4 linked regions of the Homo sapiens genome follow. The protein of the gene in region 1 interacts with the protein of each later gene in a pairwise test. Each region holds a gene or a part of one and is shown in the gene's direction. Other genes may lie near its edges. The genes, in order: ZNF474, FRMD8, MCMBP and UBASH3A.

Region 1 (7,000 bases):
AAATCTGAAATTTGAAATAACATTATTAGGATGAATTGTGCTAATCACCAGTATTAAAATACAGATATCTCTCAATTAGTATTAGGTTTCCATGTGAATAACAGACTCTTAAAAATGGCTAAAATAAAAATAAAAATTTACTTTTCTTATGTAAATAAAGTCCAAGAAAGGCACTCCAGGGCTTCTATGATGGTTCCAGCATTACCAGGGACCCAAGTCCATCCAGGCCTCTGCTCTGTCATATCAAGTGTTACATAAATGAAATCTGTTCTCAACTGGCTGCTAAAGCGCCAGTCATCACATCCATCTTCGAAGCATCAGTAAGAAGGAAAGGAAGAGAAGCAATTGTTCTCTTCTTCCTTTTCAAGAATTGTTCTTACAAGTTCCACACAATATTTTCACTAACTACAAAGGAGCTTGTAGATGTGCCCAGCTGAAAGTTGGGGCTCTATTAATTGAGGGAGTTGAGTGGAATGGCTATTGGTAAGGAACTAACTGTCTCTGCCGGACATTAGAAGGGACATTATCTCATCAATTATAAGCCTTGGTGTAAATGAGTCCATCAGTTCCTTTTTGAAAGCAAGATTTCATAGGTAAGACGGACTGGTGAGCATACAAGAATACTAGGCTGGAGAGTGGAGGCTGCTGAATGGGGTGGGTGAACAACATTGAAGATGAACCTCCTCTATTTTAGAATCTTGATCAGAGCCACCATCAGCCCCAACTCCATCTTTCTTGTTTATGTTTTTGTTCATTTAAAGAATTTGAATTCAATACTAATAGAGAAGGGATCATATCATGTATCAACTATATTTCTTTTGTTTCAAAGGGCTAGATTTTTTTATATACTTTAAGTTCTAGGGTAAATGTGCACAACGTGCAGTTTCGATACATAGGTATACATGTGCCATGTTGGTTTGCTCCACCCATTAAATCATCACTTACATTAGGTATTTCTCCTAATGCTATCCCTCCCCCATCCCCCCACCCCACAACAGGCCCCCATGTGTGATGTTCCCCGTGCTGTGTCCAAGTGTTCTCATTGTTCAGTTCCCACTTATGAGTGTGAACATGAGGTGTTCGGCTTTCTGTCCTTGTGACAGTCTGCTCAGAATGATGGTTTCCAGCTTTATCCATGTCCCTGCAAAGGACATGAACTCATCCTCAAAGGACTAGATTATTTTTTAAAAGATATGATCACACTTTTCATTGTGTTCTGTTCCCTCTCTTTTAGAGAGACACCTTCTAATGCCAAGATGGTTTTTGGATTTCCACGGTTATTACATTCTTCTTTGTGTGTTTGTCTCTCCCTTCCCATGAACCCTGAAGAGAATGGAAAAATGGCATCATGTTGATAAAAGGTGATGCCTTCCAGGACATTCTGTAAATGTCCTATGTGCAGATATGGTCAAAACGAATAATTCAGGCCAACTGAGTGAACATTTCTCCAGAGATGCTTGAGGTAAAACTGTCTGGCTTTGCAAAGTGGTTCTCTTTATAAACTAGCAACATTGCTTTATGACGTTTTGGGTGACAGGCCAATTTCTTATGTGATTTAAGTATATGCATTTAGTATTTTCCAGCACTTTTGCTTTTAGAGCTAACTTATAAAGGGAGAGCAACCAACACTGCTGTGCCATGGCATGTTGCCTTTGCACAGTCACTGGCAGAAACATTACGCATTTCTCCATAAGACACCTCCGTTCCCAAAAATTTCACTGGCTTCCAGCTACCTCATCTTTCATATTTTGATACCTTTAGTCACAATAAGGGAAAAATTTCAGGAGAACATTGGAGAAGGAAAGGGATGGTAGAAAAAGAAAAGTTGAAGATTCAAATGGACGTTTTGTGATGTTTCATCGTGTTTGCTGCAGAGAAAATATTTGCAGTGCACAAATGTTTGTGTGCGGTAAGATCTATCCCTAATCAAATGGTGACATGGCTTCAAACTGAGCACTACCTGGCCTCTTGGGGCAGCCTTCACTTTTACCCTGTGCCCATGATCAAGACAGACAAAACACATCATTCATCGTTGGTCTGCCCCATTCCCCCAACTGGTCCCTACCTCTGCTGGTTATGTAGATTTTTCTGAAGATATTGGTGAAATTAAGAAAAGAATCTGTACTGCACATCACTCAGGAAAAACTACATCTAGAAAACAACTGTATATGGCAAAAGTGATTCTTTTTTTTCTTTTTTTTTTCTTTTGAGATGGAGTTTCACTCTTGTCAGCTAGGCTGGAGTGCAATGGCGCGATCTTGGCTCTCTGCAAACTCTGCCTCCCGGATTCAAGCGATTCTCCTGTCTCAGCCTCCTGAGTAGCTGGGATTACAGCCACCATACCCAACTAATTTTTGTATTTCTAGTAGAGACGGGGATTCACCATGCTGGCCAGGCTGGTCTCAAACTCCAGACCTCAGGTGATCCGCCCACCTCGGCCTCCCAAAGTGCTGGGATTACAGGCATGAACCACCGCGCCCGGCCTGGAAAAAGTGATTCTTAATGCAGAAACAGAAAACCAAATACCACACGTTCTCACTTATAAGTGGGAGCTAAACGTCAAGTACACGTGGGCATAAAGATGAGAACAACAGATAGTGAATGCAAGCGGAGGAAGGGCTGAAAAACTACCTATTAGGTACTATGCTTACTACCTGGGAGACAGATTCATGTGTACTCCAAACCTCAGCATTACACAATATGCCCATATACCAAACCTGCACATGTACCCCGAACCTATAATAAAAGTTGAAGAAAAAAAGTCCCCTGTCACTTAACATTGAAAACATTGTGTTCCATAGCCCCAGTCTCTCTCTTCTGCTTTGTCCCTCTCAGAGGCTTCTCCTCTGTGCCTTGTCTGCACTCCTCCTTCTTGCCTCTTCTTTCTTCTAAAAGGAAGCATAACAGCTGGTGAGAGCTTAGTTACCTTCCCCTGAGGCATATGGATAATACATTAAAACAGGGATAAAAACTAAAGGGAAGAAGCTCTGCTGGAGGAATTTAGGCAGAATGAATAATGGAAAGAGCCACGTATTGGAGCCAAAGAGAGCTGGAATTGATTCACAGTTCTGTCATTTAGAAACTGACAGTCTTGGGCAAATTACTTGTCTTTTCTGAGTCAGTTTCTTTACTTATAAAGTTGAAATAATAATACCTGCTTCATAATCATTTGAGAATTAACTAAAATTATGTTTACAAAAAATCTGTGCCCTATCTGGCATATAATTGGCATTCAGTAAATATTACCTCTCTTGCCTTATCAAAAGGGAGATGGAGGGGTTGCTGGGGAAAGTCATGGGGATTTCTCAGTATTCTAATCTGCTGGAAACAGAATTGACTCTGTGTGTGTGTGTGTGTGTGTGTGTGTGCGCGCGTGAGAGAGAGAGAGAGAGAGAGGGAGGGAGAAAGAGACAGAGAGAGAGAAAGAGAGGCAGAGACAATTTAGGGGAAGGAGGCTTATTTGATTGCATTGATTTTTCTAATCTGTCTTCTTAAGTCATATTAGTGTCTGCAATTTCCTAGTATCAAGGAAAATGATAAACTAAAATTCCTCGGTGAACAGAGCCAATAAAGCAGAATGGTTTGTGGAAATAACCCACGGGCTGGATTTAAAACCTAATGAAATAATTTTACCCTATTCCTATGTTCCATAGATCTACTTTCTCTTTTAGATGGTACTGATCGAGTGATAAATTTCTCTGTTTTATTTTCTATGCTGGCCACTCTGGGGCCAACACATACTTTTCCCACATCTGTTAACATTACTGTCTTAGAATCTGTCAAAATGAAGAATAACTTCTTTCTCTGTGCCAGACCTGATTTGATACTCTTAAAGGCAAGGATTCAGACCTTTGTTGGCACCAAAGTACAGGAGCTGGGCACAGATATCACAGCTCTTCTTGTTCTTTATCAAATCCAGTGCCCAGGGTTTCCATATTACCAGGACTGCTGGCCTTGCACTGTCCAAACTGAAGTGTTTGCCGTGATGTAGAGGATCCAGCTTCATACCAGGGGCTGCTCTTCTGTGGTTAAGAATGGATGCTTTAGAGTTTATCACCCTGATAAATGAAACGATAAAGGAAATGAAAAAGGTCCTGAGGCTTCTGAAATAATCTTTTTGGGGAGCCAGATTATAAACCCACGGTAAAATTTACTCATAACTTTTCCCAATATACAAATTTAAGATTCTTCCCATAAATGGATATCTAAGCTGCCACTTCTTCTGGTGGGGATCCTTGGGGAATCCAGGGCCTTTGTTTTATATTTAAAAATATTTGGAAGTCATACATATATAAAACAAGAAAGTAGGTATGATACCTTTTTAATAAAAAAAGAGCCTCAAGCAGCATCTGTGTATCATCTTTCCATGAAAGATCTGCAGATATCCCACCAGGATGGGTGCCGGCCTAGGCTGTACTCTTTGCTGGAGAATTATAGCTCCACTTTATTAATACCCTATTCCCATAATAAACAAAAGTGAATACATGATGTGTCACAAGAAGTTTATGTCCCTCTGAGGGCTATCCTGATAATCCTCATAAGATTCATTCTTGAATTACTTCTTCTGCAAGAGTTCTTAATTTCAGGTCCATGGACACTCAAGAAGTCTGTGACACAACTTTACCTCAATTAAAATGTATATCACAACTAGAAACAGTTGACAAATTATTTCAGTAAAACTGATTTCACCTGTGATAGCAACAATTTTTATTTTTACTTATAAAAATACTATTCTGAGAAGTGCATAGGCTTCACAGAATTGTCAAAGGAATCCATGTCACTAACAAGTTAAGGATCTCTGACGTAGTGGAAGTTTCTGTGGGGCCCAGGGGGTCTTTTCGTATGACCTGCTGATTTCATTAATCTAATATTCACAGTTTGCAGTTTTCTCTTCTATGGTCTCACCACCCTGGTCTCAGCCTCTATTGCTTTGCGTCTTCTGTATCTATGATGTGCTGTAATTGTCAAGTTAACTTTTTGGGCAGAACACGATTTTCAATACAGTGATAGTGCAATTGATGATGGAAGATTTCCTCAGGTTTATGTCAGTTTATTGACCAAATCCCATATGCTGGTTACTGTGCTAGTCAAAAAGTATACAAGGTCAATATTTAAAACAAGCAAAAAAAAAGCACACACACACACACAAAACAACCTAAATGTGTGTGTGTGTGTGTGTGTGTGTGTGTGTGTTTACATAATAACTTCTTATGTCTCCCACCCGCCTCCACAGATCTTGGAGACATCTCAGCTTTAATGAGGACTTTCCAACATTCCAGACTGCCGTCCTGCAATGAAGCTCTGAGTCACGGTCTGTGAGGCTAAGGTACTGGCAACGGTGTGAACCCCAGGACAACTAACCTCACTAACCTTCACTCTAAGCAGAAGCCCAAAGTGAGTCTGGCCTGAAATCAGAGCAAGCACTACAGAAAGACATCTTTGTTAATGGAAAGAGGAAAGAAGAAAAGAATTTCCAATAAGTTACAACAAACTTTTCACCATTCTAAAGAACCCACTTTCCTTATCAACCAAGCTGGGCTTCTCTCTAGTGACTCCTATTCTAGCCTTTCCCCAGAAACAGAGAGTGTTAATCCTGGTGAAAATATAAAGACAGACACTCAGAAAAAGAGACCTGGGACTGTGATACTATCAAAACTGTCAAGTAGAAGAATTATATCGGAAAGCCAGCTTAGCCCCCCTGTGATCCCGGCCCGCAGGCCTGGATTCCGGGTATGCTATATCTGTGGCCGAGAATTTGGGTCCCAGTCAATTGCCATTCATGAACCCCAGTGCTTGCAGAAGTGGCATATTGAAAACAGCAAGTTGCCCAAGCATTTGAGGAGGCCAGAACCCTCCAAACCACAGTCTCTCAGCAGCAGTGGGTCCTACAGTCTTCAGGCAACTAACGAGGCTGCATTTCAGAGTGCCCAGGCTCAGCTGCTGCCCTGTGAATCCTGTGGCCGCACATTCTTGCCAGATCATCTTCTTGTTCATCACAGAAGCTGCAAGCCAAAGGGTGAGGGTCCCAGAGCACCACACTCAAACAGTTCTGATCATCTTACTGGCCTCAAGAAAGCTTGTAGTGGAACCCCAGCCCGACCAAGGACTGTTATCTGCTACATATGTGGTAAGGAATTTGGCACCCTGTCCCTTCCTATTCATGAGCCCAAATGCCTGGAAAAGTGGAAAATGGAAAATGACCGGCTCCCTGTGGAGCTCCACCAGCCACTCCCACAGAAGCCTCAGCCCCTTCCGAATGCACAGTCCAGCCAAGCGGGACCAAATCAAGCTCAGCTTGTGTTCTGCCCACATTGTAGCCGAATCTTTACCTCAGACCGCCTCCTGGTACACCAGAGAAGTTGTAAAACTCATCCTTATGGGCCAAAATATCAGAATTTGAATTTAGGGAGTAAAGGAGGCCTAAAAGAGTACACTAATTCCAAGCAGCAAAGGAACAGGGCAGCACCCAGTGTAACTGATAAGGTAATTCATGCCACACAAGACGCATTAGGTGAACCTGGTGGTGCCCTCTGCCTGTAGGGGAACAAGAGAAAACTATCCCCAGAATCAGCCACCTCAGCCCCTAGTATTTTTTCTATCAATGCCTTGTATCAGCCTCAAAGCAGCCTGTTCAAGTTAACTCCCTGTTGAACTCCAGGGCCTATACCTCTCTTGGCTGAATAGATATAAGAACATCCTTGCCTGATGGGTTCATATTCCTCTTCAATTCTGCTGTCTAAAAGAAGAAGAGATGGACTTCTTTCTTCCCTGATCCCTGATACAAATAATCCCTGGGAGAGACAGTAATTTGAAAATGAGTCATTAATGCTGTGTCTACATTACAGAGATATAATTCCCATTCCAACAGCCAATATTTATTGTCGGTTTATTTTAGTCATCTACCTTAGGAATTCATTTTTGGCAATGCTGGGTTATGCTGAGTTTATCTTACTAAAATAGAATCTGTGTCAAAAACCCCCAATGACTTTAGCAACAATTA
Region 2 (7,050 bases), on another chromosome or scaffold:
AAAGTGCGTGTTGATCTGCAATGGCACCATTCTGCTCAGTCAAAACCAAAACCCTTTCAAGGATCTGTGAGCCACAGGGTGCCGCCCATTCTCCTCTGACCTCACGTCCTGCCACCCACCCCCTTGCTTTCTCTGCTGCAGCCACCCGAGCCTCCAGACTCTTCTTCAGTCAGCCTTCTGTCTCCAGGCCTGTGGACTGGCTCTTCCCTCTTCCTGGGCACTCTTGCCCTGGCACCCCTCCAGCTGGGGCTCAAATGTCACCACCTGGGTGAGGTCTGCCCCGCCTCCCCAGCCGGAGGCACTGCTGGCTCTTCCTCTCTTTCTCCATCACAGTTATCACGCCAACATACGATGGGAAGAACTTGTCTGTCTGGACAGGGATCTCTGGGTGTTCTGTGCACAGCGGGTGGCACAGGGTGGGCTCTCAATAAATCCTGAGTGACTGAATGAACGGAAATGTCAGCCAGCAGCATCAGCGGCAGCCTGGGGCTCCAGTTCCCTCTTCCCATCACCAAACGGCCCTGGGAAACATCAAGGCCCAGTGACACCTGCACCCTCCCCTCCAGATCTCCCCGCAGCTCCTAGTCTCCCATGGGGGACGCCCAAGGCCCAGTCCTTCTCTCCCTTCTCCTCTCACTGTGGCCAAGGCAGAACCCACCCACCCCTGCTGCTTTCTCCCGGGTGGACAGATTCGGGAAACAGGACCTCCTACCTCCTGCCTCTGGAGCTGCCTGGGGCTCCTTGGGCCACCCCCAAAGATCATCCTAAAAGACCATCCCCAAAGACTGGCCTCTCGTGGTGGCTTGGGCTGCAGTCCTGGTTCTGCTTCTTATTCCTGAAACTGCCTTTGCAAAAACTATAACTGATACAGGCCAGGCGCAGTGGCTCACGCCTGTAATCCCAGCACTTTGGGAGGCCGAGGCGGAAGGACCACCTGAGGTCAGGAGTTCGAGACCAGCCTGACCAACATAGTGAAACCCCATCTCTACCAAAAATACAAAAATTAGCCGGGTGTGATGACGGGCGCCTGTAGTCCCAGCTACTTGGGATGCTGAGGCAGGAGAATCGCTTGAACCCGAGAGGCAGCTGTTGCAGTGAGCCAAGATCATGCCACTATACTCCAGCCTGGGCAACAGAGCGAGACTCCGTCTCAAAAAAAAAAAACAAACAAACAAACAAAAAAAAAACCCTCCTGTCTCTCGTACAGCCAGCTCTGCATGAATTAAACTCTCCTTATTGCAATTCCCCTGTCTTGACAAATTGGCTCTGTCTAGGCAGAGGGTAAGGTGAACCCAATGGGCGGTTACATTATCTCTCTCAGTGATGTTGAGCAACCTCTTCTGTGGGCCTTGGGGTCTATTATTGTTTGCCAAAGTAGGACAGCAGTCGGGCTAATTGATGTCTAAGCCTCTCAGCTCTAAAGGCTGGAGGCCGCCTCCTCCCTCACTTCAGAATGGGTCTCATTCTCTTTTCCAATCTCACCGCCTCACCCCAGTTTGAGAAAGACCCTCATTCCCACTTCCCTACAGCCTTGCTGAAGGGAAGCCCACCTAAGCATGGCGTCATCTTGTGAATCTCTAGCTCACAACCTCCAAAATGTTCTTACTGTCTAACACGCCTGCCCCATATCTGTCATCCTGGGGTTCAAGGCCTCCCCCATGGTGCCACCCACCTGCTATGCTCTCACACAGCGGGGGTCTTTCCTGGGGTCCTAACCATGCTCGTGCAGTTCCCACTACCTGGAATGCCTTTCCTTCCCCACCATCAGCCTCCCGGACTCTCTCCCAGTGCCCCTCCTTGACTAGACCCGGGTTCTAGCCTCCCCACCACCACCGCAGACACTCCCAGGTGTCAGTCTTTGACATAAAACAGAGATGTGATACTCACCTCTTAGTGAGTTCTAAGGATTAAAGCACTTTAAAAAGTGGCTGGCACGTAAATGGCAACTGCTAATACTTATTTCCACTCTCAGGACGCATGAGAATGACACAGGAAACAGGGGAAAGGGCCTGGCCCAGTGCCCCACACACAGCAAGTGAGCAGAGACTTTTCCTGCCTGTAGCATTTCATAGTTCTTAAGGCAATGCTGTCATCTTCTGTGGTTTTATTTATTTTTTTGGAGACAGAGTCTCACTGTTGTCCAGGCTGGAATACAGTGGCAGGATGGCGCTATCAGAGCTCACTGTGAGCTCACACTCCTGGGCTCCAGCGATCCTCCCACCTCAGGCTCCTGAATGGCTAGGACCACAGATGTGTGCCACCACACCTGGCTAATTTTTGGGTTTTTTACAGATGGCGTCTCACTATGTTCCCCAGGCTGGTCTTGAACTCCTGGCCTCAGGCGATCCTCCTGCCTCGGCCTCCCAAAGTGCTGTGGTTTTAAATGTGCTGTTCTCCTGGGCTTCTTTCTCTTTCCCCTCTTCCTTAACTCACCAATTAAACCACAACAGACACTTTCTGAGGGCAGGGCCACGTCTCCCCTCAGTCTCCATCCCCTGACCTAGCACAAGCCCCGCATCCAGTAAGCATTCAAAACAACACTGAACTCTTCTGCTCCTGCTTCACTCCAGCTGGGTCAAGAGGCCATGGAGATACAGTGTGTCCTGGTCTGAGGGTCCCAGAGCTGAGAACCAGGAAGGAGATGCCTGCCCCCACTGGACACCCTTCCCTGCAGCCCACATCTGAGCTTCCTCAAGTCCTTAAGTCACATTGGCAAGGCAAATGTGATGTCATGGGCTCAGCTGTGGGGCAGTGTGGATCATAGGAGGGCAGGCAGAGCTGGTTCACATACCAAAGAAGGCTGGACTGGGTCAGGAGCTAGAGCTGCTTTCCAATCCCAGGGAACCAGGGCAAAGTGAACCCACTGCCCTCTGTTCCTGATCACCAAGCCCACTGCTGTCACTTGGGACAACTTCTGGTTCCTCTGGCCCCAGAAGGTGCCCCATGGACTTATTTTTCTCCCTGAGTTCCACATCTCAGATGCACACATGTTGCATTACCAGGACATGTCAGTGACATGGCCCTGAGGGTAGGTGGTTTCACACCTGCCTCTTTGGGGCCCCAAGTCTCCTCCCAGCCTGGGAAAACCTCAAGGTCTCCCAGGCTGTTGTGTAAGATAGTAAGGGCTCATGTCACTGCTCCCTGGAAAAACAGAGTGTCTGTCCTGGTTTTCTGATTTAGACATATATATATAAATTTTTTTTTTTTTTCAGACGGAGTCTCGCCGTCGCCCAGGCTAGAGTGCAGTGGTGTGATCTCGGCTCACTGCAGGCTCCGCCCCCTGGGGTTCACACCATTCTCCTGCCTCAGCCTTCCCGCGTAGCTGGGACTACAGGCGCCCGCCACCTCGCCCGGCTAATTTTTTGTATTTTTAGTAGAGACGGGGTTTCATCGTGTTAGCCAGGATGGTCTGGATCTCCTGACCTCGTGATCCGCCCGCCTCGGCCTCCCAAAGTGCTGGGATTACAGGCGTGAGCCACCGCGCCCGGCCGACATAGACATATATTAATAATCATTTAGAGAGTAGGGATAGTCCTTGGGGGTCATTCAGTTCAACCACCTCATTTTACAGATGAGGAAAACTGAGGCCCAGAGGAGAAGGGACTTGTCCAGGATGAGTCTGGGCCAGGACTCATTCTCCTGACCACTGCCGAGAGCGCCACGGTACAGGCCGCTGCCAGCGCCGCATGGATCCCTGGCACGTGCCAGGAAGTGTCCATTTCACAGGCAGGGAACTAGCCCGAAGACCCAGCGTGGGCAGGCCAACGCCCCTAGCCTGATTCTCGAATCTTCGCCAAACCCTCTTACAGGCCAACAGTCGGGGCCTTTGTGAAGGGAAACTCGCTCTGGGTCACTCTGGTGGTGGCGGGGCTGGTACGTGACGCGGCCACCCCACGGGCGTGATGAGACACGCGAGGCTGGCGTCCGGGCATGCGCGGGCCGCGCGGGGCGGCCCTGGGCTCCCATTGGCTCCCCCGGGTCGAAGGGGGCGGGGCCTCGGGCGCCGCGCTTCCTCCCGCCGTGGCTTCCGCGTCGCTTCCCGGTCAGCTGCGTCCTTAGCGGGAGCCCGAGTGCGGGCGGTGGCGGGCTTGGCGGCGGGGCAGGATTCCAGGCAGGAGCCTTGCCTCTCAGGTGGCGGGCTCTGCGACCCTGCGAGGTGAGAGCACAGCGACGTCTGGCCCGGGCCTCCGTCCCCGGCTGGGCGTGCGCCTTGCCCTGCCTGGGCATCCAGGTCGACCCCCGGTTCTTGACCGTAGCAACCCGCACCCCTCCCACCAGCGCCCGGTCTGCACTCTTGGCCCCTCCAGGCAGCGCCGCTCAACCTTGCGGACCCAGCCTGGGATCCCTTACCGTACTCACCGAGAGCTTGAGGAGACCTCCAGCCCCCCATCCCTGGCTCCCGGTAACTGCTGTTTCTCTTTGCCTTTGCAGATGGACGGGACAGAAGGCAGTGCCGGGCAGCCCGGCCCCGCTGAGCGATCCCACCGAAGCAGCGTGTCCTCCGTGGGAGCCCGAGGTGGGTCCCACCCGCATCTCCTCTTCCACACCCTCCTGGGACCCCAGCCCTGGAGAAGTAGCTCTGGCTTGTCTTCTTTTTCATTAAAGATAATTTATGTATCGACTAAGAAATAATAAGGTACATTCAGATGTGGAAAACTCACAGAAGTCAGAGGCTCTGTCACTAGTTTACTGGCCAGGTTGGGTCCTCGCTCTCATTTGTAAAATGAGCTTGTTTAACATAGCTGTGAAATTCAAATGAGATTATATGAATGAAAAGTGAAGGCTGATGTGGTTCATGCTTGTAATCCCAGAACTTTGGGAGGCCAAGGTGGGCAGACCACATGTGCCCAGGAGTTCGAGACCAGCCTGGGCAACATAGACAAAAAAGAAAGTGACACGTTCACTTTCTTTGTGTCATTTCTTTTTTTCTTTCTTTCCTTTCTTTCTTTCTTTGACAGAGTCTCCCTCTGTCGCCCAGGCTGGAGTGCAGTGGTGCGATCTCAGCTCACTGCAAGCCCCGCCTTCGGGGTTCACGCCATTCTCCTGCCTCAGCCTCCCGAGTAGCTAGGACTACAGGCGCCCGCCACCACGCCTGGCTAATTTTTTGCATTTTTAGTAGAGACGGGGTTTCATCGTGTTAGCCAGGATGGTCTCGATCTCCTGACCTCGTGATCTGCCTGCCTCAGCCTCTCAAAGTGCTGGGATTACAGGCGTGAGCCACCACACCCGGCTGTGTCCTTTCTTTCTCCCAAACAGCCTTTTGAAAGCAGGGATCAGGCTGGGCGTAGTAGCTCACACCTGTAATCCCAGCACTTTGGGAGGCCGAGGCGGGTGGATCACTTGAAGTTGAGAATTCCAAGAGCAGCCTGACCAACATGGAGAAACCCCTGTCTCTACTAAAAATGCAAATTAGCTGGGCGTGGTGGCACATGCCTGTAATCCCAGCTACTCAGGAGGCTGAGGCAGGAGAATGACTTGAACCTGAGAGGCGGAGGTTGCGGTGAGCTGAGCTCGCACCATTGCACTCCAGCCTGGGCAACGAGGGTGAAACTCCGTCTCAAAAAAAAAAAAAAACAGGGATCATATCATGATCTTCATTTGATAGGGAGGAAACTGGGCCCTAGGGAGGTTAAGTCCCAGGCAGGCTGTGGAAGCTCTCCAGGTGATTACATACTGCAGCTTCTGGTGCCTCAGTTCTTGCCTGAGAAGTAGATCTGAACCTGAGCCTCCTCGAAGTGATTTTGTGATCTCTGAGAGTAGCTGCTGGAGCATAACAGACTGGGGGTCCGAGGAGCACCTTCTCTTGTGTAGATGAGAAACCGTGCCCTTCCCTTCCACACACTCTTGGAGGGAGGAGTATTAGCTCTACTTTTACAGATGAGGCAACTGACAACTTAAATTGACTCCCTGAAGTTGGCCAGCGACCAGGCAAGGATGGGAACCCGAGTATGTCGGCCCCAAACTCCAGTGTTCCTTCACCATGCCTGCAGTCTCAGGGATGGGGATTTGAATCTGGTTGCTCTTCCAGGTGTCTCCATTTGGCTCTGGAACCCACAAGTTGTCACAAGGGAACTCTCAGCTATTTGGGCTGTTCTTCCCTAGCCTGCTTCGTATTGACTCCTGAGGCTTAAAGAGTCCTCAGACTTAAAGAGTCCCAAGGAAGCTGAGACCTGGAACTTGCTTTAACCTGGGTGACCTAAAGAATTATCTCTTCGCATCTTAGCCTCAGTCAGAGAGAGACTTGCCTAAGGACAGCAGCGGGTTACCAGCTCTCGCTCCTGCCAGCCAGCCAGACTAACTGCCATAGCCTCAGGATGGTTTCAGCCTCTCTATGCTGTGGTTTCAGCCTCTCTGTGCTGTAGTTTCACATCTGTGGCATGTTCTTGTTCAGGGCAGAAGAACAGTTGAATCCTTGGGGCAGCTATGGTGGTGAGGGGCAGGTTTGCAATGGCCAGGCTTAATTTGAATCTTGGGGGATTGCGGTGGGGCTGGTCTCTGGGCAGGAGTTACTGGGTTTCTGGGTGGTTTAAGGGTGTCAAGGAAGCACTAATAGATAGCATTCGTGATAGGGTCTTTTGGGGCTGCTGGGGCTCTGCCTCTGGCGAGGACTCTGTCTCAGGAGCGTAGCCCTGGTCACCCCTGAGGGGTGTAGGGTGGGGGCTCCAGCCCCAGTGGGTGGTAGAGGGTGCCTGGTTGGCCTGGCCTGGCTGTGCCAGGCAGAGGCCTCAGCTGAGCCTGCCTGGTCTCCATCACAGCGGCTGACGTGCTGGTATACCTAGCGGATGACACGGTGGTGCCCCTGGCTGTGGAGAACCTGCCCTCGCTCAGTGCCCATGAGCTGCACCGCGCTGTCCGCGAGGTCCTGCAGCTTCCAGACATCGCCCTGGATGTCTTCGCGCTCTGGCTGGTCTCCCCTCTGCTGGGTAAGGCTTGGCAGTGAGGAGCCCAGGCTGGAGGGTTGGAAGGGCACTGACCAGTACAGGAGGGAGGGGGCAGTGTTTGGAGCCGCTGGGGAGCCGCTGGCCACTGCCCATGGGGAAAGGTGGGACT
Region 3 (7,036 bases), on another chromosome or scaffold:
TTCATTTTTGTCTTCTTCCTTCTCTCAGCAAAACCTATTTTTCACTTATATTTAAAATAAAACAGAAGGAAGAAAACTTTTAATAGTTTGTTCTTCCATCTTACTTATTCTAGTGTTTTGATCCTGATAAATGAGCAAGTGATAGAAGGTTCAGAAATGATTGTTAAGGATTTCTATCCTTATTCTTTGTGCATTTTGGGTTTTTTTGTTTTTGGGGGGTTTTTTTGTTTGTTTTTTTGAGGCAGTCTCACTCTCTTGTCCAGGCTGGTGTGCAGTGGCACGATCTCGGCTCACTGCAACTTCTACCTCCTGGGTTCAGGCAATTCTCGTGCCTCAGCCTCCTGAGTAGCTGAGATTACAGGCATGCACCACCACACCCAGCTCGTTCTTTATATTTTTTGTAGAGATGGGGTTTCACTATGTTGGCCAGGCTGGTCTCGAACTCCTGACCTCAAGTGACCCACCCACCTCAGCCTCCCAAAGTTCTGGGATTCCAGGGGTGAGCCACTGCACCCAGATTCTCAGTGGTTTTAACTGAAATGACACTTAAGTCATATGGCACAGGGACCAAAATTACCATTTTTTCCCCTGCCTTGCTTCTACCAGGTCTAATCAGTAAATGGCCTTGACTATTACTAAGTCCATCATGACAGACAATTTTGAAAGGTTTTTTTTTTTTTTTAAATTGTGAAAAATCTTCTGGCCATTCCAAGTTTTGTGTTAATCCGATGTTGCAGTTTATGAATAAATGCAAAGTTAATCATCTTGTTTTTGTTTTTTCCTTTTCTTGGTGTGGTTTAATAGGTTTTGAGATAGTGCACAGTTCTAGTTTTAACTGTCAGCCTTTGGGAAAAGGCTTTTTTTAATTTTAGGAAAAGCCTTTTTTTTTTGTAGTACTGTGGTATATTGAAAACAGACATTAGTCTGGAAGTTAGGCATCCTGTGTTTTGGTTTTTCACTTATTTGCTAACTAGCAGAATGACTCTTGGTCTCAATTTATAAAAATTTATAAAATAAAGGACTTGCTTTAAGGTCTGTTTCCTGATCTAAAATTCCAAGATATTGGTACTTCAAGACTAATATCTTAAGCTTTGTGTCTGTTCTAACAGTGTGATTTCATGTGGTCTCTTGTTAGGTTTATGAAGATTGGGATTGTTTCAAAGTAAATGACATTCTTGAGCTATATGGCATACTGTCTGTGGATCCTGTGCTGAGTATACTGAATAATGATGAAAGGTGAGTCTGTGTGCTCTTTTTTTGGTCTCCTTTATTTTTATATAATTTCAAGTTTTCAGGAGAGTTACAGGATGGTTTTAAAGAACTCCCTTTTCCCTTTCTCCCAGATGTACCAGTTGTAAACACTTGCACCCCATGTGTTTTGTCATTCATTTGTGCTCTCTATGCACACATTTTTCTGAAACACTTGAAAGTATGTTGCAGAAATCAAGCCCTTTTACCCCTAACTGCTTGTCAACATTTCCTAAGAGTACTGACTTTCTCATATATAATTAGAGTACAGGTATCAAAACTAGGAAATTTGCCACAAATATACAATACACTAATCCACAATCTATACTTAATTTCACTAATTGTCTTAATCATGTTCTTTCTTACACGTCTCCCTTCTGCATCCCCCAGTCCAGGGTTCAGAAGCTCGCTCATTCTCTATTTCTACTGAGTTCATACTGTATTTCTGATTCCAGTTCAGCACCACAGGTGTCGTTCTGCTTGTTCTCCTTTCTGTATTAGTGTAACTCTCTTAAACTTGATTCCCATTTTTCACAATCTTATCATTTGCACATTTTTACAACATAGAGAAGGGAATTTCAGAATTGTTAACTCATACCTTTACAAAACATAAACCTAAATAACTAGAGTTCAATCTGAAACAGTCCTCAGCCTTTGTCTTTCATGGTCTTGCCACTTTTTTTTTTTCCTTAAACAACAGAAATATATGTCTTCCAGTAGTTCTGGAGGCTGGGAAGTCCAAAATCAAGTTCCCAGCAGATCTGGTTTCTAGTGAGGGCCCGCTTCCTGGTTTACAGATGGCTGTCTTCTCACGTGGTAGAGAGCAGACAGCCTTGATGCTTTTGAAGAGTGTAAGCCAGTTACCAGTTACTTGTTTCCTCATGGTTAGACTCAATGTTTTGCATTTTTGGCAGGAATATTACAGAATTGATGTATCCTCAGTATGTTACAGCAGGAGGCATGCGATGTCAGTTTGTCCCTTTACTGGTGAGGTTAATTTTCATTAGTTGGTTAAGGTGGTGACTTCCAGATGTCTCTTCTGTAAAGTTACATTTCTCACTTTGTAATTGACAAGTAACTTGGAGGAAGGTACTTGGGGACATAAATATCCAGTTTCTCATTAAACTTTCACCAATTTATTTTAGCATTCATTGATGATTCTTGCTTGAATCAGTTATTACTTTGTTGGCAATTTTCTAACGCAGTACATTTATTTATTGGCATTCTACTATAAAAGATACCTCTTCCATTTGTTTATTCAAGTAATGTATTTACTTATATTTAGTATAGACTAATAGATTCTGATTTTATTCAATGTTAATATCATTATTTTATTTCGAGACCCAAATTTTCCCAGATTTGGCTAGTGGGAGCCACTTTAAGCAGGTGCCGGGTCCTTTTTTTGAGATGATGTTATCATTTTTTAACATTTATTTTCTGGCATATTAAGCTGTTGCAGCTTCATCGTATGCTTTGAAGATCTGAGTCCTAGATGTGCTCGTTGGTACTGGATTAGATTTGCATCTAGGCCCTTAAAGTAGACAGAGCTAGGATACATGCAGCATATGGATACATATATACGCACCCACATTTAAATGCACACATACACACTCACATGCATGTTTTGTGTATTTCTAATGTCTGTGAAAAACCATGGGTTCATATTTCTGATTCCAGTTCAGCACAGCAGGAGTCACATGTTCTAGTTGTTCTCCTTTCTATATTTATGACTTCTTTTTCTAACAAATTTGATTCCCATTATTCACAATCTGTTGTTTCCCCATTTCTACCATATACAGAAGGGAATTTCAGAATTGGTAACCCATACCACTACAAAACAGAAACCTAGTAATTAGAGTTCAATACATTTCCAGTTCATTTTTATTTTAGAATGCAGCTGTGTAGTCAGAGCTATGTTCCACTTACTCAGGTAACTTTTCTTCCCCTTCAGTGTGATTTCATTATTTATTTTACTTAGAAAGATTCTCAGAGGTGTCATTCTCGGCTATCCCCATTCCTGCTGTCTGTTCCCACCCAGCCTCCTTAGGGAACCACAGTTTCTGGTTTATCCTTCCTGTATTTATTTTTTTACAAAAATATGAAGATACGTATACATTTTATTTCTACCTTTTTCTTCTATAAAAGGTAACATGGTATATATACTCTTACACTTTTTAATTTTTTTTATTAACAACATATCTTGGAAATCTAGACCTTCCTCATTCATTTTTGTTTTGTTTTGAGATTGCCAAAAGCAAGGGCTGATGTCCCTCATCTACACCAGAGTCCTCTTGTTGAATACCGGACATTAATCATCTTAGTTTCTGTGTAGGATGAACTTAACATTTTTCACAGTTAAAAAAAAATGGTACAAAACAAAAATTTTAAACAACTTTAAATAAGCTTAACCGTCCCTTAATAATAGTATATGAGATTGTTCATCTTGGCAATTTCTGATTGTGATGACTTTCCTGCTTTAGTTACTTCACTATTGATGTAGTTTAGTTTAGAGGTTGTATTAGGGGTCTCTAAAGGGTCAGAACTGATAGGATAGATGAATATATGAAGGGGAGTTTATTAGGAGAATGACTCACATGATCACAAGGTAAAATCCCACAATAGGCTGGGGAGCAAGGAAGCCAGCCTGAGTCCCAAAATCTCAAAAGTAGGGAAGCCACCAGTGTAGGCTTCAGTCCGTGGCTGAAGGCCTAAGAGCTCCTGGTGAACCACTGGTGTAGGTCCAAGAGTCCAAAAGCTGAAGAACTTGGAGTCTGATGTTTGAGGGCAGGAAGCATCCAGCATGAGAGAAAGGTGGAGGCGGAAGACTCAGCCAGTCTGCTCTTTACATGCCTGCCTTTATGCTGGCAGCTGATTAGATGCTGCCCACCCAGACTGAGGGTGGGTCTGCCTCTCCCAGCCCGCTGACTCAAATGTTAATCTCCTTTGGCAACACCCTCACAGACACATCCAGGAACAATAATTTTCATCCTTCAATCCAGTCAGATTGACAAAGTATTAACCATCACAGAGGTTAAGAGCACAGACAGGCAGGCAGCCTGGGTTGGAGTCCTGACTTGGCCACTTACTAGCTATGTCACCTTGGGCTTGGTTTCCTCATTGTAAATAAGGGTAGATGTGAGGTTTTGGTGAATTTGTACGTGTAAGGCATTGAACGTTGTCTGTCACATGGTACGTACTATGGAAAAGGTTATTATGCTTGTATTAAAAAATACAGGAGTATGAATTTATTACTTCAGTGTCTATAGATTCTATAAAGTCAAGATCTAAAAGATTAGCTATTTGTTTTGGTCGTCTCACAAATCTATCATCTGCAGATTTATTTAGCAAGTCTGAAAAATTCATACTTTCATTGCTTGTCTACTCAGTCTTCGAGGGATCATGTAAGAATTAAATTTAGGAAAAACAATTAGCAAGATAAGAGATGAATGGATTCTCCACACGCTGAATAATAGATACCAGATGGCTTTTGAGAAAAAGACCCCAGTTTTTGAGATCTGCTGTCAAGTATTCGATGTCCCGGCCAATAGTTCAAGGAGTACCTGTGTTTTGAAATAGCCTTATGAGTGACATCCTACATTCCATTTATTGAAGTGCTGAATAACAAATATTATTGTTTCTGGCCAGGCATGGTGGCTCACGCCTGTAATCCCAGCACTTTGAGAGGCCAAGGCAGGCAGATCACTTGAGGTCAGGAGTTCGAGACCAGCCTGGCCAACATAGTGAAACCCTGTCTCTACTAAAAATACAAAAATTAGCCAGGCATGGTGGTGTGCACCTGTAATCTCAGCTACTCAGGAGGCTGAGGCATGAGAATCGCTTGAACCCAGGAGGCAGAGGTTGCAATGAGCCAAGATCGCATCACTGCACTCCAGCCTGGGCAACACAGTGAGACTCCATCCAAAAAAAAAATAAAAATAAAAATACCGTTCTTGAAAAATTGAATAAATGCATTATTTCATGATATGTCTTAACAAGCCTGAAGTCTGTGTGATGTAACACTTTAGAATGAGAGGCCACTTTCTGTTCTTTAAGGAGATGTACAGGTGGAAATATTCTTGGCTTTAACTCTAATTTTGTTTTCCAAGATGCACATTATTTTTGCATCTGTGCAATTGATGTCTCTCTAAATTGAAACTTTATCACCTCTCCACAGGGATGCCTCTGCACTGCTGGATCCGATGGAGTGCACAGACACAGCAGAGGAGCAGAGAGTACACAGTCCTCCTGCTTCATTAGTGCCGAGAATTCATGTGATCTTAGCCCAGAAGTTGCAACACATCAACCCATTATTGCCTGCCTGCCTTAACAAAGAGGAGAGCAAAACCTGTAAGTGTAAGTGTTACAGCCTAGTCAACTATCGACTGTTAGCCTCAGTGTGTCCAGAGCTGCCTGTAACGTGCTCATAGTGGAATTGAGAGTCAGGTCTTCATTCCTCACAATAAGTGTTTTCAGTAATCTCTCTCTCGTTGCCCCATTTTTCTCTTACATTAATTCTCTTCACTGAAATGAGGACAAAAGAGTATACAAGGCTGGGTGCAGTGGCTCACGCCTGTAATCTTAGCACTTTAGGAGGCCAAGGTGGGTGGATCACCTGAGGTCAGGAGTTCGAGACTAGCCTGGCCAATATAGTGAAACCCTGGCTCTACTAAAAATACAAAATTAGCCAGGTGTGGTGGCGTGTGCCTGTAATCCCAGCTACTCGGGAGGCTGAGGCAGGAGAACTGGAGGCAGAGGTTGCGGTGAGCTGAGATGGCACCATTGCACTCCAGGCTAGGCAAAAAGAGCAAAACTTGGTCTCAAAAAAAAAAAAAAGGAGGATGCAAACTGCCTTATTTTTAAGATTAGCATCACTTACTGACGGATATGTTAAGCTTTACCTACTGTCGACTGAATTGTGCTTTGCTCACGTAGTTATTTTTTTACCTAAGACACTTGAGAGGAACTGGAGTGTGTGTCCTGACTCAGGTCTTCCTTTCTCCTTCAGTTGTTTCAAGTTTCATGTCCGAATTGTCTCCAGTCAGAGCAGAACTTCTTGGGTTCCTTACTCATGCCCTTCTGGGGGATAGTTTGGCTGCTGAATACCTTATATTACATCTCATCTCCACAGTGTAAGTGCTGTATCCTGGTGGGAATTAGGGGAGTTTGGTGTGTGTGGAAGTGGAAGAGCGGGAAGATTGCTGGTGTCATTTGTGTGTTTTCCTTATTGGGCTTCATCACATGGTTTTTATCTGTCCAGTGTTAACTGTTATACCAAATCACAGACAAATTCCTTTTCTCACAGTTCACATTTAGCATTTTGATTATGTCCCCTTAAATTTTAGAGCCAAAATCAGATAAAGCAGTGGTCCCCAACCTTTTAGGCACCAAGGACCCATTTCATGGAAGACCATTTTTCCATGGACCGGAGTGGGGATGGTTTCAGTATGAAACCGTTCCACCTCAGAACATCAGGCATTAGTTAGATTCTCATAGGGAACACACAGATGTGCAGTTCACAATAGGGTTCGCGCTCCTGTGAGAGTCTGATGCCACTGCTGATCTGACAGGAGGCGGAACTCAGGCGGTAATGCCCACTCATCCACCCCTCACCTCCTATGTTGTGGCCCGGTTCCTAACAGGCCATGAACCAGTACTGGTCCACGGCCTGGGCGTTGGGGACCCCTGAGATAAAGGACCTGGCTGATGAGTAAAATGAGCTGTTTTATCCCTTTTGCATTCTGAACGCTCTGTTTATACATCCCAAGGCGCCCACGTCATGTGCACGTTT
Region 4 (6,966 bases), on another chromosome or scaffold:
TCTCGATCTCCTGACCTTATGATCCGCCCACCTCAGCCTCCCAAATTGCTGGGATTACAGGCATGAGCCACCGCGCCCGGCCCCAAAAGAATATTATTTAAAAATCAGGCAGGGCACAGTGGCTCACACCTGTAATCCCAGCACTTTGGGAAGCTGAGGCAGGTGGATCACCTGAGGTCTGGAGTTCCAGCCGGGCCAACATAGTGAAACCCCATCTCTACTAAATATATAAAAATTAGCCAGGCATGGTGGTGTACGCCTGTAGTCCCAGCCACTCGGGAGGCTGAGGCAGGAGAATCACTTGAACCCAGGAGGCAGAGGTTGCAGTGAGCCTAGATCATGCCACCGCACTCCAGCCTGGGTGACGGAGTGAGATTCTGCCTCAAAAAAGTGAAAATAAAACTATACAAATAAATATCACAATATGCTCACATTTAATGGTGAAATATTGAGACCTTGTCCTCTGAAATGGAGAGTTATACAAGAAGGTGCACTAGTACCACATCTGTTCAACATTTGACTTGGGTTCCAAGTCAGTGCAATAAAGGCAAAAAAAATAGAAGGAACTATTATGCGTAGAGCTGCCATGAACATTCATAGACCAATCTTTGTGTGGACACACGTTTTCATGTATATTTACCTTTATAAGAAACCCTCCAAATGTTCCCCAAAGTGGTTGGACAGTTACGCATTCCCACCAGCACAGTGTGAGAGCTCCTGTTACTCCCCAGCCTTGTGTAAACCTGGTATTTTCCATTTTAGCTCTTCTGGTGGGTGTGCTGTGGAATCACATTGCGGTTTTAATTTGCATTTCCCTGATGACTAATGATGTTGAGCATCTTTTCATGTCTATGTATATATCTTCTTTTTAAAAGTATCTTTTTTGATACTTTGCCCATTCTTAAAATAGATGCTTGTTTTCTTATTATTTGTTATAAGTATATATAAAATATTCTGTATATTCTAGAAACAAGTCCTTTGTCAGCTATATGTATAGTGATACTTTCTCCCAGTCTGTGGTTCACCTTATTATACTCTTTAAGATGTCTTTCAAAGAGCAGAAGTTTTCAACTTTGGTGAAGTACAGTTCATCAACTTTTTCTTTTGTTGGTTTATTCGCTTTATGTCCTAAGAAAGTTTTGCAAACTCCAACATAGCAAACATTTTTTTTCTAGGTTTTCTTAAGGAGTTTTATAGTTTTAGCATTTACATTTTGAGTTAATTTTTGTATATAATGTGAGGTAAGGGTTGAGGTTCGTTTTTCCTCCTACCAATATGCAGTTTTCCTAGCACTAATTTTTTTTTTTTTTTTTTTCAGACAGGGTCTCATTCTGTCACCCAGGCTGGAATGCAGTGATGCAATCACAGCTCATTGCAGCCTCGATTTCTTGGGCTTAAGCCATCATCCCACTTCAGCCTCCTGAGTAGCTGGAACTAATGCCACCATGTCTTTTTTTTTTTTTTTTTTAAGAGACGGAGTCTCACTCTGCTGCCCTGGCTGATCTCAAACTCCTGGGCCCAAGTGATCCTCCCACTTTGGCCTCCCAAACTGCTGAGATTATGGGCTGAGCCTCTAGCACCATTTATCAAAAGCATTATCCTTCCCCCATTGAATTTCATTGGCATCCTTGTTGAAAATCAATTGATTGTAGGTGTGAATCTTTTTGCACTACCCAATGACACACTATGACACACCATGGCAACCTGATTTGTAAATGTTTATGAAAAAGCAAAGGACAAAACCAGAGGGTTTAGCACTATAGTGATTAAAACAGTGTAGAATGGGCACAAAGAGGGACAAATCAAACAAGAGAGCACACAAGTTAGAAAAAACTAATCCATATACAGTCACTTGATTTACAATAAGCCTCCTACTGCAATTCACTGGGCAAAGGATAGCCCTTTCAATGCGGAAGTAGATGAAAGTTTACCCCTACCTCACACCATACACAGAATGAATTCAAATGGATCATAGAGCTAAATATGAAGAGCAAAAGTAGCAAAACTTCTAGAACAAAACATAGATGATCTTCATCGATGTTGGATTAACAACAATCTCTTGAACAGGATGCAGAAAACTCTAACCAGAGTTCCCACAAATTGATAAGAAAAGCAAACACCCTAGTGAAAAAAAAAAAAGAGCAGAATATCTGAACAGGAACTTCCCCAGAGAGGATATTCAAATGGGCAATAAGCCTGTGAAATGGTGCCCAATATCATTATCCCTCAGGGAAATACAAATGGGAACCACAGGGAGATACAACTACACACCACCCCCACCACAGAGTGGCTAAAATTAGGGACTGATAATATTAAGTGTGCATGAGGATATAGAGCTTTGTACAACTGCTTGGCAGTTCCTAATGGAGTTTCACGTGCTCTGTGATCCAACAACCCCACTCCTAGATGCACACCTAACAGAAATGCATGCACAAGGCACTCAAAGACACATACAAGAACGTCCTCAGCAACATTAGTTACAATAGCAAAACAACCGAAAACTTCCTGAATGCATATCAACAGAGAAATGGATAAATGAATTATGTTATATTTATTTTATTTATTTATTTTTGAGCTGGAGTCTCACTCTGTCCCAGGCTGGAGTGCAGTGATGCAATCTTTGCTCACTGTAACCTCCACCTCCTGGGTTCAAATGATTCTCCTGCTTCACCCTCCTGAGTAGCTGGGATTACAGGCATGCACCACCATGCCCAACTAATTTTTGTATTTTTTAGTAGAGACAGGGTTTCAACATGTTGGCCAGGCTGGTCTCGAACTCCTGACCTCAGGTGATCCACCCCCCCCTTGGCCTCCCAAAGTCCCAAAGTGCTGGGATTACAGGCGTGAGCCACCACGCCTGGCTGGTATATTTATTAATCAAATACTACACAGCAATAACAGTGAACTAACTGTGGCTACAAGCAATAATGTGGATAAATTTTACAGGCATAATTTGAGGAAAAAGAAATGAGATATGATAGAGAATATGCTATATGGTTCTATTTACATAAGGCTCAACCACAGGCACAATTCATATACAAGTGATACAGCAGTTTACTTTCTGGGGGAGGGAGGAGATAACTGGAGGAGGCTGAGCTGGGGGCAGAGGTGCATCTGAGGTTCTGAGAATGTTCCAGAGCAGGCTATCTCCACCTTGGCACTAGTGAAATTTTGTTGGGGAGACTGTCCTGGGCACTGTGACATTCCCGGCCTCTACCCACTAGTGCCGGTACCACGATGTCCACCCCACCCACCACCACCCCCGCCTCATTTTGGAAACAAAAATGTCTCCAGACATTTCCAAATGTCCCCTTGGGTGGAGGAGGTACAAAATTCCCCTGGTTGCCCTGTTTGATTTTGGGTCGTGGGGGAATTAGGGGTGTGGGCTCATTTATGGAAATTCCTTGAGCTATACACATATGATTCATCAACTTTTCTGTACACATATAAAGCTTTTAAAGTTTTTAAAATAAAAAAACAAGTCAATGAATGACTGAAAGAACCAGTAAGTTTTCCAGCAATCCGAGACAATAGATAGAGTGGGGTTTAATGTCTTGTTCACAGACAAGGAGACTGGGATCCAGGGTGGGTCAGGGCAGGGGGCCAGCAGGATCCAGGAGGGAACTCATTCCCTGACTTCTCCTCCGCTTCCTTCCCCCATGCTCTCACGCATTCTTGCTCCCGAATACTAGCCAAGTCCCTACAGAGGCTGATCCCGTGCAGGGGCTCGGTTGGACCTTTAGCCTCAAACTCCCGTGGTGGAAACAGTTAGGATTGGTGGACGCTGCACCCAGCATCCTGCAAACAGAATTCTGAAAACTGATATCTCATGCAAACAGGATATCAACTTTTGTCAGAAAGATCAAAAAGAGCTTGAGGTTTTTCTTCACAGCCTCAGCCTTGCCTCTCCCCCTCTTGCTTTATCTCCTCATTTCTGTGTGCAGGCGAGCTTCTTGGCCTAAGGGCAGGAAGAGATGGCAGCGGGGGAGACGCAGCTCTACGCCAAGGTCTCCAACAAGCTCAAGAGCCGCAGCAGCCCCTCGCTCCTGGAGCCCCTCCTGGCCATGGGCTTCCCGGTGCACACCGCGTGAGTACTGCCCAGAGACCCCGGGGCCCAGCCAGTAAGGCTGGTGCCAGACCCTGCTGCGGCCCCCGGCATGGAGCTGCAGGGGTGTAGGGTACGGCTTCCTGCCAAAGCAGTGCACCTTGCAGGGTAAGACACTGCCTCTTCACAGGGCCCTCTTCTGCTTCTCGTAAATGAGGTGATCTTGACCAAGCTTGTCCAACCCACATGAGGCCCAGGACAGCTTTGGGCTTAAGCCATCATCCCACCTCAGCCTCCTAAGGCTGCCCTGTTCAATTTGTGTTGGCTGCCCAACACAAATTGGTAAACTTTCTTAAAATATTATGAGATTTTTTTTTTAGCTCATTAGCTATTATTAGTGTTAGCGTATTTTATGTGTGGCCCAGGGAGGCACAAGAATACCCCTGATATTCTTGACCTTTTAAAGACCAGCTCGGCTGGCTGACTGGGGGACCCTGAAATTTGTGAAAATCAGAAGCCATGTATTACTCTGGGTGCCCCATTTTGGGGGTTTGGAGGAGATTGGGGCCTGGTTGTAATCTCTTTGTGTGCAGCTCAGTGACTCTGAAAGTGGCGTTTCAAGATATTCAAACTCTAACGTGAAAGGCCCCAAAGCCCGCTGAGTCTCTAACACTGGGACCAACTGTCAGCAGGGCTGTGCTTCCACGCTGCCCGGGGAAAGTCACTTGTCCTCAGAGACAATCCCTTGAGTGTCTGATAACGAAACAAATGGGTAGGAAACTTCAGACACAGTGTGAGCGCGACCCTGCTTACCCAAGGGAAAGGCCTGCATGTGGAAGAGCTTAGCCTTCAGAGTTACCACTCTCGGAGAGGGAGGCCACGACACCAACATTGGGTTACAGCTTTCATGGCAAACCAGTGCCTTAAATCTGACCCATTCATTTTTTCACATGGAAAAATGTATCAGAAACACACTTTAAATCTGACCCATTCATTTTTTCACATGGAAAAATGTATCAGAAACACACTTTAGGTAACTTTGGGTTGGGGAAGGAGCTAAACTTTCCTTCCACACTATAACAAAAGCTTGGCCAAATTGGGTGAAGTAACTCTGAAGCTAGACAAACCCATTTCTTCTCCCCAAATCAGGGCTTTGTCGTCACTGTTATGTTCAAGCTAAGCCAGGGGCCTTTGAATGGGGAGTGGGGTCAGGCATGTGCAGGGCGGCCACCGGGCACCGTCCAGGCATTACAGACAAGGCAGCTTTTGTCCACTGCTCACCACCCAGTGCAGGCAGGACACTGGGCCCAGAGAGTGCATTAGTGGCGGAGGTGGAACCCGAACCAGCTTTCCATGCCTTTGAAGGAGTCCACGCTGGATTTTACTACTAAACGTATAGCATGGACTTCTACTCAAAATTCCTTCCAGTTTAAACATTAAGCACATGTTGGAGGAAGAGAAATGTGTGTTAATTTCCCCACACCAGAGCACCTCATAGTAAGTGCCCTGCACCAAGGCTGCCTTGTTCAAACCTCTCCAGGTGGCCACAGCCCCATCGGTGCCCACCCAAATAGCAGCATTCGGCATCATGTGGTGGGTTCCTCATGGACGCCCGCTGTTTCCAGTCTGCATTCCTGATAAATTACCTTTGCTATATTCCATTCTGTTTCATTTGGTCCAGTTCTGCCCAATTCAATGCAATGTACTTACGTCCCGGGTTACCGTGATGAATAAGACTCAGTCCTGTGTTCAGGGAGTTCTTGGTCTAGCAGGGGAGAGCCGTGGGTGCAAGGGGACTGTGTAAGCCGTAACAAGTGCCTGCCTGGGTGCTTTGGAAAGGGCTGTTTCCCAGCAGAGAGGTGTGGGAGGCGAGCCTGGGGATCAGGGTCGCTGATGCTGGGGTGAGGAAAGCGTGTGTCCGAGCCAGGGGCACGTTCCGCAGGGTGGGTCCATTTGATCTAGGCAGTGGGGGGGGGGGGGGCAGGCCAGGGAGAGGGATTGCAGGAGCGGGCGGAGGTCAGGTCCTCAGCCCTGAGACCCCGTGCCAAGGGCTGAAGCGGGTAGCCAGGGAAGGACAGTGAGGGGGAGGTGTGAGCTGGTCAGCATTGTCCAAAACCACGATGGCAGCACTCAGGGGACAGGCGCTAGAACTTCCAGCTGGAAGTTCAGCATCAGGCCCTCTTCAGAGCACCCCCCAAAGATCCTGGGTGTGCAAGGCCACACCCTGCCTCTCTGACCCTTTTCCCAAGAATGGGCGACGTGACTTTGTGTCTGTGTCTGCTCTTCTGCAGGCTGAAAGCGTTGGCAGCCACGGGGAGGAAGACGGCGGAGGAGGCCTTGGCCTGGTGAGTGCAGCTGCTTCTGTAGACCCAGGGGCGTTTGGGCTGAATTCCCTGTGCCTAAGGACTCCCTCCCACCAGGGCTGATACCAGGAAGAGCCGGGCGCCTCTGGGTGGGATGGGGCCACTGCGGAAGTGAAACAAAATAACCTCCCTGCCTACCCATAGTGCACTGAGGGAGGGGCACAGGGCTTTGGTTAACCATGGAAAGAGAAAGAGAGAACTCTGAACAAGGCTTTCTTCACTTACAAACCTGATTCAATCCAATTTGACTGCCAAGAAGAACAGGTTCATGTGCTTTGTTGAGTAAATGGGGAAGACATGATTGTTGTGTTGTGATAAGCACGTAAATGAGGGTAATTGTTAGAATAAAGTAATTAGGTTAAAAATGGTAACATTTGGGTTTATATTAGTACTGCTAATATTCAGCCTATTTCAGTAATTGAAGAGCAGGCTGGGATTTTGCATACTTGTGTTTGATTATGTCCTCCTCAACTGCCTACTACGATGGATAAGATTGAGATAGATAGGAGGATGTTTGTGTTTATTGATGGAAAGATTTGAGACATAATTGACATCTTT

Evidence for each region.
Region 2: the proteins of ZNF474 (region 1) and FRMD8 interact in binary tests that used the Homo sapiens proteins (3 or more experiments, as listed by UniProt).
Region 3: the proteins of ZNF474 (region 1) and MCMBP interact in binary tests that used the Homo sapiens proteins (3 or more experiments, as listed by UniProt).
Region 4: the proteins of ZNF474 (region 1) and UBASH3A interact in binary tests that used the Homo sapiens proteins (3 or more experiments, as listed by UniProt).

The regions. Positions count from the first base shown.
Region 1 is NC_000005.10:122,146,546-122,153,545, forward strand, and holds part of ZNF474 (zinc finger protein 474), read left to right. Parts: intron 1-2,778; exon of another isoform or gene 2,779-4,058; intron 4,059-5,233; 5' UTR 5,234-5,445; coding exon 5,446-6,540; 3' UTR 6,541-7,000.
Region 2 is NC_000011.10:65,382,606-65,389,655, forward strand, and holds the start of FRMD8 (FERM domain-containing protein 8), read left to right. Parts: upstream 1-4,031; 5' UTR 4,032-4,156; intron 4,157-4,431; coding exon 4,432-4,516; intron 4,517-6,755; coding exon 6,756-6,923; intron 6,924-7,050. UniProt on the Homo sapiens protein: Promotes the cell surface stability of iRhom1/RHBDF1 and iRhom2/RHBDF2 and prevents their degradation via the endolysosomal pathway. By acting on iRhoms, involved in ADAM17-mediated shedding of TNF, amphiregulin/AREG, HBEGF and TGFA from the cell surface.
Region 3 is NC_000010.11:119,841,813-119,848,848, reverse strand, and holds part of MCMBP (mini-chromosome maintenance complex-binding protein), read left to right. Parts: intron 1-1,135; coding exon 1,136-1,236; intron 1,237-5,422; coding exon 5,423-5,595; coding exon of another isoform or gene 5,596-5,601; intron 5,602-6,253; coding exon 6,254-6,377; intron 6,378-7,036. UniProt on the Homo sapiens protein: Associated component of the MCM complex that acts as a regulator of DNA replication.
Region 4 is NC_000021.9:42,399,972-42,406,937, forward strand, and holds the start of UBASH3A (ubiquitin-associated and SH3 domain-containing protein A), read left to right. Parts: upstream 1-3,930; 5' UTR 3,931-3,974; coding exon 3,975-4,087; intron 4,088-6,336; coding exon 6,337-6,390; intron 6,391-6,966. UniProt on the Homo sapiens protein: Interferes with CBL-mediated down-regulation and degradation of receptor-type tyrosine kinases. Promotes accumulation of activated target receptors, such as T-cell receptors, EGFR and PDGFRB, on the cell surface.